Regions from separate parts of the Homo sapiens genome. Here region 2 is linked to region 1. The links come from fine-mapping of genetic effects on gene expression. A gene starts in region 1. The other region holds a variant in brackets. All regions are shown on one strand. Distances are between the middles of the regions.

Region 1 (5,369 bases):
ATTTATGGGGTACATGAGATATTTTGATAACAGGCATGCAATGCATCATAATCACATCAGGGTAAATGGGTGTCCATGACCTCAAGCATTTATCCTTTCTTTGTGTTACAAGCACTCCAATTATACTCCTTTAGTTATTTTAAAATGTACAATACATTGTTGTGGACTGTAGTCACCCTGCTGTGCTCCCAAATACTAGATCTTATTCATTCTAACTCTATTTTTGTACCCACTAACCAGAATGTTCGGTATTTGTTAATGAACATGTTATGACAGGATGTTTTAGAAGAAAATAAAGAAAAAAAGAAATTCCAGCCAAGCATGGTGGCTTGATTTTATTTATTTATTTATTTTGAGATGAAGTCTCCCTCTGTCTCCCAGGCTGGAATGCAGTGGCGTGATCTCCACTCACCGCAACCTCTGCCTTCTGAGTTACATGGCTCACGCCTGTAATCCCAGCACTTTGGGAGACTGAGGTGTATTGCTTGAGGTCAGGAGTTCGAGACCAGCCTGGCCAACACAGTGAAACCGTGTCTCTACTAAAAATACAAAAAATTAGCTGGGCGTAATGGTGGGCGCCTGTAATCCCAGCTACTAGGGAGACTAAGACAAGAAAATCGCTTGAATCTGGGAGGCAGAGGTTGCAGTGAGCCGAGATCGCACCATTGCACGCCAGCCTGGGCAACAAGAGGGAAACTCTGTCTCGAAAAGAAAAAAATTATTTTTTAATTTTAATTTGTTAGTGAACAATTAGGGTTGCTGTGAGAATTGTGCCTGGCACACACAGCCATTTAAAAATCACGATCTTCAGGCAGTGTGTGGTGGCTCACGCCTGTAATCCCAGGACTTTGGGAGGCCGAGGTGGGTGGATCACCTGAGGACAGGGATTCGAGAGCAGCCTGGCCAACATGGTGAAACCCCGTCTCTACTAAAAATATAAAAATTAGCCGGGTGTGGTGATGCGGGCCTGTGATCCCAGCTACTCGGGAGGCTGAAGCAGGAGAATTGCTTGAACTCAGAAGGCAGAGGTTGCAGTGAGTGGAGATCACGCCACTGCATTCCAGCCTGGGAGACAGAGGGAGATTTCATCTCAAAATAAATAAATAAACAAAATCAAGATCATTTAACAAATACATATATTGTACTTACTAAGTTCAAATTTCTGTTCTAAACGTTTTTACAAATGCTGTTAAGTCATTTAGTCCTCTGCATAATGTCGTTTGTTTGTTTGTCTGTTCTTTAAGACGGAGTCTTGCCCTGTCGCCTAGGCTAGAGTGCAGTGGTGTGATCTCGGCTCACTGCAACCGCCACCTCCCGGTTTCCCGTGATTCTCCTGCCTCAGCCTCCTGAGTAGCTGGGATTACAGGTGCGTGCCACCACATCCGGCTAATTTTTTGTATCTTTAGTAGAGACGGGGTTTCACCATGTGCCAGGCTGGTCTTGAACTCCTGACCTCGTGATCCACCCGCCTTGGCCTCCCAAAGTGCTGGGATTACAGGCGTGACCACCGCGCCAGACCCATAATGGCGTTTTATAGATGGGGAAACGGAGTCATAGAGGCTAAACAACTTTCCCAAGACCACACAGTTAGTAAGGGGCAGGACTAGGACTCAAAGCCAAGTTTATGACCAAATTCTGGTGCACTACGTTCTCCTGCTTCTGGAGAAGATAATGATGCTGAAGATTCTACTTTTGGTGTAAAGGAGTAGGAAGGGCACGGGGCACTGCTAGCTTCAGTGGGCCTGAATCTTTGTCTTTCCTTCTGATTTGGAGAAAGTGCAAGAATGGGAAAATGCAATCGAAGTGAAGGAGAGGCCGGCGTATTTTCCTGAAATGCGCGGCCCGCAAGCCCAAACCCGTTTCCCGGGTGTCCAGGCAGCGTTCTGCAGCATCTCCAATGCCCGCCAGCCCGCCGCAGCCCAGCGCCCGGCAGCCGGCGCCTCTCAAACCCCCTCCGGCCAGGAGCCTTCGCCGCTTGGCCGCGCCGCGCCCGGCCTGGGAAAAAAGTTTCCAAACGACGCTGCTCTGCGCTGATTGGCCGAGGCGGACGCGGTACCGTAGAGCAGCAGCCAATGGGAGGCGCCGACCGCAGGCTCCGGGGCGGGGGCGGGGTCCGGAGGGCCGGGGCCGCACCGCCCTTCGCAGCCGCCTCTGCCGCCGCCGCCGCGTTGGCCTCGCCGCCCCTGCTCGGGTAAGTGAGGCGCTGCGCGGGGCTGGGGTCGGGGTGGCTGTCCGGGGACCTCCACCGCGGCTGAAAAGCTCCTCTGCCCCGCCCCAGGATCCCGGGACCCCGGGCCACCGCCTGGCAGGGACCCCTACGCCCCTCGCTTGCGCGTCGCTTCCCGGCCGCCTGGACTCCCCCGGTCCCTGGGCTCCAAAATCCCGCCTCCCTGGAGCCTCCCGTCCTAAAAAGTTAGGCACTGAGTGCCTTGCCACCGGTGCGTTCCTCGCGCTGGCCCCTCGCCCTTGGCAACTTTGTTTCTCTTTCTGCGTTGGTCTCTCTCCCACCCCGTTGCCCTCTTCTCCTTCCGGGACTTCCTGGGTGGTTAAGCCTTGCCGGTCCCCAAACCCCGCTGCCAGGCTCCATCCTCTTTCTCCTCTTCCTTCCTCCCCATACTCCTCTCCTAGATGACCCTCGTTTCTTTTCTCTCTCTCTCCTATTCCTCCATCCTGCCACCCGCTTCTCTGCGACCCCAGACCCCTCGATTGCAGCGTTGCCCCTGCCCTCACACCCACTGTCCCGCCCCTGCAGGCCTCTTTCCAAAAACCCACCCTGCTCCCTCCCTCCGGGAACACGTTTGGGGCAGTCTGCTCTCCGCTTTGCTCCCGTCTCTGCCGCAGGACGGTTCAGGTTTCTTCTGACAGCACTTTGGGGAGGGATTGGGTAAAGGACGAAAATGCTTATTCCGCAGCTTGAGTGATGGCTGGGCTCACTGAGGACCTGAGTCTCTGAGGTCCTGGGAAACCCCGCTGTCACCTTGACACCGCTTTTGGGGAGGCGACTTTATCTTCTCCGAGCCATCTCAGGCTTTCTGCCTCCTGAGGGCCTGAGCTTCCTTGATTGCTTTGTCCGTGGTTACTACCAGGTTGTGCCTCTTAATTTCTACTTTGAGCCTCAGGCCCCTTTTAACTTTCTAAAGAAAAGGCCTTTGCAGCACGACCTAGGCAGGTTCATCATTTTTAGTTTTGTTATAGTGTATTCTAGCATAGGATGGCATTTTAGGACATGGGTCGGGTGTTTTGAAGATTAATTAGATCCCAGCTACTCCTAAAGCCTCTTGTTACCCGACCACCCCAGCCTCCATCACCTCGTTGGTATACAACCCGTTTTTTTTTTTTTTTTTTTGTTTTTGTTTTTGAGACAGAGTCTCACTCTCGCCCAGGTTGGAGTGCAGTGGTGCGATTTTGGCTCACTGCAACCTCCGCTTCCCGGGTTCAAGCGATTCTCCTGCCTCAGCCTCCGGAGTAGCTGGGACTACAGGTGCGTGCCACCACGCCTGGCTAATTTTTTGTATTTTTAGTAGAGATGGGGTTTCACCGTGTTAGCCAGGATGGTCTCGATTTCCTGACCTCGTGATCTGCCCCCTCGGCCTCCCAAAGTGCTGGGATTACAGGCGTGAGCCACCGTGCCGGCCTACAACCCATTTTGAGCCTTTCCTCTTAGTGTGTGTTTTGTGTAGGATTAAATGCAGATGATCTGTGCCGCTGAAGTCTCAGGGGCCTGTGATTCATATATTTTATCCCATGTTGGATAACAGTTTATTAACTTGACTTATTTTTGTTTCCAAAGTGTGTTATTTATTATTTATTTATTTATTTATTTTGAGACGGAGTCTTGTTCTTGTCCAGGCTGGAGTGCAGTGGCATGATCTCGACTCACTGCAACCTCAGTCCTCCGGGTTCAAGTGATTCTTCTGCCTCACCCTCCTGAGTAGCTGGGATTACAGGTGCGTGCCACCATGCCCGGCTAATTCTTAGTAGAGATGGGGTTTCACCATATTGGCCAGGCTGGTCTCAAACTTCTGACCTCGTGATCTGCCCACCTCAGCCTCCCAAAGTGTTGGGATTACAGGCATGAGCCACTGCACCCGACTCTATCATTATTATTATTTTTTATGTAGAGGCAGAATCTTGCTTTGTTGCCCAGGCTGGTCTCAAATTCCTGGGCTCAAGCAGTCCTCCTGCCTTGGCCTCCCACAGTGCTGAGATTACTTGCAGGCATGAGCCACTGCATGCAGCCCAAAGTGTGTTCTTTTGCCTTAGAATGTGAGCCGAGAATTGACACTCCTTTTCCTCACAAGGTAATTTCCTAACATGAGCATTCCTGTGTACAGAAAGTTTGTGCCTGCAGTTAGTACTACACGTGCACCTCGTGCAATGGATGTGGGTGCTTTTTGTCTGCCTCCTTCAGCAGTGCCCAGCACTTAGTAGGTATTCAAGAAATGTTTGAAAAGGGTTGGAGGAGGCAAAACCACAGTAGGAAAAATTCTTTCCCTGTCACTTGGTTCAGTAGAATAAAATTATCCTGGAACAATAGCTATTTTACTTTTTGTCCAAGTTTTTGTTTGTTTGTTTTTTGAGACGGGATCTCACTCTGTCGCCCAAGCTGGAACACAGTGATGCAATCACAGCTCACTGCAGTCTCGACCTCTCAGGCTCAAGCAATCCTCTTGCCTGAGCCTCCCAAGTAGCTGGGACTAAAAGCACATGCCACCATGCTTGGCTAATTTTTAAAATTTTTTGTAGAGATTGGGGTCTCACTATGTTGCCCAGGCTGGTCTCGAACTCCTGGGTTCAAGCGATCCTTCCGCCTCAGCCTCCCAACGTGCCGGGGTGGGAGAGAGCCACCGCGCCTGGCCTAAGCTTTTTAAAATCTCTAAAGCGATCTATGCTTACTGTATATATGTGTATGTAGTTTACCTTAAAGCAAGGTGTCAGGTACAAATCCACAGGGCTTGCTTTACCCCCATTCTGGTGCATCCTCCAGACCCTTTTCTATTCTGTGTACAGAGAGAGGGAAATAAACAAAAATGGGCACCCATTTTTAACATATCCTGAGCTTTCTTCCATATTAGTACTTACAGTTCTTAACAACTGCATCGTTTTCCATTCAGTCCTCTGTTGACATTGAGGTTTCCAGTTTTCCACATTCGTGAATGATGGTGTGCATCTTTGAACATGGGTCCTTGCCTGCCTAAGTATTTTTGTAGGTTGATCATTGTAAACTTGGAAAGCACAAAGACAGAAGCCAGGCTTGCTGACTCTTGACTGATGTTGCCCCAGTGATGTCACTCCTGCAAAATGCAAAGCCTGCGTCCTGGCTGTCGGAGCATGTGTGGACATTTGGCAGCTTCTTTCTCTTCCCTCCT
Region 2 (5,369 bases), 47 kb after region 1:
GCAGTGTGGTGAGTTTTAGGTGTGGCTGCTCCTTTAGCATCCCTGGGAATCATTAGAGCTTCCTGTGGGAGTTACTGCCAGACACTCAGAGCTCTGACTCGAAGCCCTGCTCTGAACCCTATGTATGTCTCTTTCCTTTTACCGTTTTTCCTCTAGGAAATTTGGGAAATTAGGGTGATATGTGTGTTTTTTCCTTAACTCGAAAAATTAAGGAGCACTTGGAAACTGCCTTCTCTTTTGGCCGGGTGCTCATACCTGTAATCCCAGTGCTTTGGGAGGCCAAGGTGGGAGATTACTTGAGCTCAGGAGTCTGACACCAGCCCGGGCAACATGGTGAAACCCCCTGCCCCGACTTGGCCTCTACAAGAATGCAAAAATTAGCCAGGCCTGATGGTGTACACTGGTGGTCCCAGCTACTCAGGAGGCTGAGAGGTGGGAGGATTGCTTCAGCCTGGGAGGTTGAGGCTGAGTGAGCTGAGATTCCAACACTGCACTCCATCCTGGGTGACAGCACGACGTTGTCTCAGAAGAGAAAAAAACTGCCACCTTTTTTTTTTTTTTTTTTTTTTTTGGTTTGTTTCTTGGGGTTTAAGTGAATTTTGACACTTTGGGAGACCGAGATGGGTGGATCACCTGAAGTCAGGAATTCAAGACCAGCCTGGCCAACATGGTGAAACCCCATCTCTACTAAAAATACAAAAATTAGCCAGGAATGGTGGTGGGCACCTGCGATCCCAGCTACTTGAGAGGCTTATGCAGGAAAATTGTTTGAATCCGGGAGGCGGAGGTTGCAGTGAGCTGAGATCGCACCGCTGGGTGACAAAGTGAGACTTGGTCTCAAAAAAAAAAAAAAAAAAAATCTTGAAAGCCTAGGGCAAAGAATTTGGCCTTTCAGCTTTTATGTTAATTACAGGGAGGGATCCTTTTGTGCTTAAGTAAAAACATAGGTATTCTTTGTAGTTTATTTTTAAAAATGATGCCTAGAAGGCCACATAATTTAACTCCTACCAAGTTGTCACTGTACACAGTGTATTTGTAGCTACAACTTAATAGAAGCTTGCAACTCATTTCTTTTGTTTTTACTTCTGGTTTTTGGCTGTCTGGTTTGCTATTCTAGAAGCAGGTCTGCATTTCAGTATTTAGCCTAGTTGGAGTATAGAGAAGCCTGGGGTGCTGTCAGTGTCCTTTTGGTTTCCTCAGGGTCTGTTGTAGCCAGACCAAGTCCTTACCAAACTTCTTGCCATTCTGCAGAGGTTTAACAAGGTAAACCAAAGGGTGAAGGATTCCAGAAGTGGATTTCCTACTTCCTACAAGCGGAGTTGGATAATTGGTAGGTTAGTGATTTTTCCAGAAAGCTCCCATTTTAAAAAATTTTTTGTAATTAAAAAAGAATTTTTTTTTTTTTTTTAAGCCAAGCATGATTGTGCATAGTCCTAGCTATTCAGGAGGCTGAGGTGGAAGGATTGGTTGAGGCTGCAGTGAGCCGTGATCTTTTTCCAGGCAGCTCCCAAACATTTTAAAAAATTTTTCGTAATTAAAAAAAATTTTTTGCATTAAAAATTTTTTTTATTAACTGGGCATGATTGCGGATGCCTATAATTCCAGCTGCTCAGGAGGCTGAGGTGGGAGGGATTGGTTGAGCCTGGGAGGTTGAGGCTGCAGTGAGCTGTGATCTCACCAGTGCACTCCAGCCTGGGTGACACAGCGTCTAAAAAAGTAAAAAACAAAACAAAAAAAAAAACTGAGATGGGATCTTACTTTGTGGCCCAGGCTGGTCTCAAACTCCTGATGTCAAGCCATCCTCCTGCCTTGGCCTCCCAGAGTGCTGGGATTATAGGTGTGAGCCATTGTGCCCAGCCAGCTCCCAAATACTTAAGGTGCTTGGTTCTGAGACTGGCATATACGTTGGATTCCTCTTGGGGTCCCACCTTGGAATTCCAGTGCACAACAGTTTGAGAACCACTGTCTGGGGTTCGTTCTTCTGTACAGGCTCTGGTAAGACAGAATAGTCCTTGCCTATAACTTGAGAGATAAAAGTGTATTTCTGTCCAGGCACTGGAGTCCAAACTCGCTTCCTGCCGGAACCTCGTGTACGATCAGTCCCCAAACCGAACAGGTGGCCCAGCCTCTGGGCGGAGCAGCAAGAACAGAGATGGCGGGGAGAGACGGCCAAGCAGCACCAGCGTGCCTTTGGGTGATAAGGGGTCAGTACCTTCTAATAAACCTCTCGCTGGCGGGGAGAACCCGCCTGCCCCAGGCAAGAGACACTCACCCCCAGCCCACAGCCATGTGTCTTTTTAAATTATAGGATTATTTCAGCAAACCTTATCCTCTCCTCTGCTCCCTGCAGGCAGCATTAGGTGGTGTCTTGTGGCTTGAACAAAGGGCTAGAGAGAGGGTCTTGTTTTGTGAGACAGGGTCTCACTCTGTCACCTAGGCTAGAATACGATGGCAGGATCATGGCTCACCCTCTGCCTCCCAGCTCAAACGATCCTCCCACCTCAGTCCCCCGAGTAGCTGGGAGTACAGGTGCGTGTCACCGTGCTCGGCTAATTTTTTGTATTTTTTCTAGAGACAGGTTTTGCCATGTTGC[C/T]GAGTTTGGTCTCAAACTCTGAGCTTCAAGTGATCCTCACCCTTCATCCTCCCAAAGTGCTGCGACGACAGGTGTGGGCTACCATGCCTGGCCAAGAAGGTCATTTTTATCATTTGATTCTACAGCTGCTACTCACGGTTACACTGTGAGAATGTCCTGTATAAAAGCCCTTATTTGGGCCAGGTGTGGTGACGCTCGCCTGTAATCCCAGCAGTCTGGGAGGCCAAGGCAGGTGGATCACTTGAGGTCAGGAGTTCAAAACCAGTCTGGGCAACATTGGTAAAACCCCATCTCCACCAAAAAAAATAGAAAAATGAGCCAGGCATGGTAGCATGTGCCTATAGTCCCAGCTACTCAGGAGGCTGAGGAAGGAGAATCACTTGAACCCTGGAGGCAGAGATTGCAGTGAGCCAAAATTGTGCCTCTGCACAGCAGCCTGGGTGACAGAGCAAGACTCCATATCAAAAAGTTAATTAATTAGTTAAATAAAAATAAAGCCCTTATTTGGGGAATTGAGCATCAGTCATGGCTCTGCTTCCCCTGAAGTTTTTTTTTTTGTTTTGTTTTGTTTTTTTTTTGAGACGTCTTGCTCTGTCGCCTAGGCTGGAGTGTAGTGGCATGATCTCAGCTCACTGCAACCTCTGCCTCCCAAGTCCAAGCAATTCTCCTGCCTCAGCCTCCTGAGTAGCTGGGATTACAGGCGTGTGCCACCATGCCCAGCTAATTTTTTGTATTTTTAGTCGAGACGGGGTTTCACTGTGTTAGGATGGTCTTGATCTCGTGACATTGTGATCCACCCACCTCGGCCTCTCAAAGTGCTGGGATTACAGGCGTGAGCCACTGCAACCAGCCCTTTTTTTTCTTTTTAAATCTGTAGAACCTTTGAGAAACTGGCACTAACTTCTAGCCCAGACTATGTTCCTGAAACCAGCCACCCGATGGGACAGTGCAGATCTGATCTCTAACAGTGTCATTAATTTTCTTGCCTAAAGAAAATCAGGGCCAGGCTCAGTGGCTCACACTTGTAATCCCAGCACTTTGGGAGGCTGAGGGCAGCGGATCAATTGAGCTCTGGAGGTTGAGGCCGCAGTGAGCCGTGTTCCCAGCCACTGCACTCCAGCCTGGGTGATGAAGCGAGACCTTGTCTCAGAAAAAAAAGGGGCAGCTTTCAGATTCAGGAATTCTGCAAGGTGTGTGACTACCATCTCTCTGGGCCCCAAGCCGTAGGAATTTGATGGGTTTGTAGCAGACACGTGACAGGAAATTAAGAATATTTTCCATGGCATGCACATAACTTTGAGACCTTTACACGTGGATTTTTAGGCCAGGTGCAGTGAAGTGGCTCACACCTGTAATCCCAGCACTTTGGGAGGCAGAAGTGGGTGGATCACTTGAGGCCAGGAGTTCACAAGACCAAACTGGGCAACATGGTGAAACCCTATCTATACTAAAAATACGAAAATTAGCCGGGCATGGTCGCGGATGCCTGTAGTCCCAGCTGCTTGGGTGGCTGAGGCACAAGAATCACTTGAACCCAGGAAGTGGAGGTTGCAGTGAGCCAAGATTGCACCACTGAACTCCACTCTGGGCAACAGAGTGAGACTCTTTCTCAAGAAAAAAAAAAAAATTAATTTTTGTTTGTTTTCTTTCTACGAGACAGGGTTTTGCTGTGTCACCCAGGCTGGAGTGCAGTGGTGCGACCATAGCTCACTGCAGCCTCGTCCTCCTGGGCTCAAGCCATCTTCCTGCCTCAGCCTCCCAAGTAGCTGGGGCTACAGGTGCACACCACCACCCCTGGCTAATTTTTTTTATATTTTATAGAAACAGTCTTGCTATGTTGCCCAGACTGGTCTCAAACCTCCTGGCTTTGAGTTTGAGAATACACCTCTGAGACTGTAGTCTGCTTCTCATTGAGATTTCTAGAGGTGAGTTTTCAGATTAATTTTCCAGGCGATCTTCCCACCTTGACCTCCCAAGTGCTGGGGGTTACAAGCGTTAGCAATCATGCCTGGCCTTTTTTTTTTTTTGGAGACAGGGTCTCACTCTGTCACCCAGGCTAGACTGCGGTGGTGTGATCTCGGCTCACTGCAACCTCCGCCTCCTGGGCTCCAGCGATCCTTCCACCTCAGCCTACCAAGTAGCTGGGACTACACATGCAGGCCACCACACCCAGCTAATTTTTGTTTGCATTTTTCATAGAGACAGGGTCTCACTATGTTGCGTAGGCTGTAAAACAAACAAACAATAGGTAAGAGATGGATTTTTCTAGTGGGTCTGAGACTGGGCGTTTTGTGTGACCTTGGAATCTGAGAGCCAGGTAGCCAGTGTCCTCTTCTTCATTTCACAGGAGAGAAAATTGAGACCCTGTGAGACCCTGCTCCTGACTCTTGATGTTCACCCTTATAACTCTCTGGGCCCCGGTGCTAGCCAGTTTGTCACAGCTGTTATGTCAGCTTAATTTGGTTTGCTCTGTCTGAAGGTTGGGGAAGCGCCTGGAATTTGGGAAGCCGCCTTCACACATGTCTTCATCGCCGCTGCCGTCAGCCCAGGGGGTAGTCAAGATGTTGCTTTAGGAAAACCACGGAAGCTGAAGGTCTTGGTGTTGGTGCGGAAGTCGTTACCTTTTGTCGTCTTTTTACACTAGGTTTTTGTTTTAAGTTAGTTTGAGAAATAAGAGCAGTCACCATAGTTAGTTAGCTTTGCGGCCCAAGCCAATGACCGAGGCCATCACCTGTGCTCTGGGGTTTGTCCCTGGGAAATGTCTTTTCATCCTTAC

Evidence for each region. PIP is the estimated chance that this variant, and not a neighbour inherited with it, causes the effect.
Region 2: its variant is fine-mapped to the expression of NDE1 in spinal cord (GTEx, PIP 0.98).

The regions. Positions count from the first base shown.
Region 1 is chr16:15,648,104-15,653,472 of GRCh38, forward strand. NDE1 (nudE neurodevelopment protein 1) reads left to right here and starts at 2,142. Exons shown (of 9, transcript NM_017668.3): 1 at 2,142-2,191. RefSeq lists enhancers at 1,843-2,344, 2,345-2,844 and a silencer at 5,209-5,369.
Region 2 is chr16:15,694,657-15,700,025 of GRCh38, forward strand. It overlaps NDE1 (nudE neurodevelopment protein 1), which reads left to right. Exons shown (of 9, transcript NM_017668.3): 8 at 2,053-2,204. Among named protein-coding and RNA genes, the nearest start is that of NDE1, 47 kb to the left of the region's middle. The variant C/T (reference allele first, on the strand shown) is at 2,594.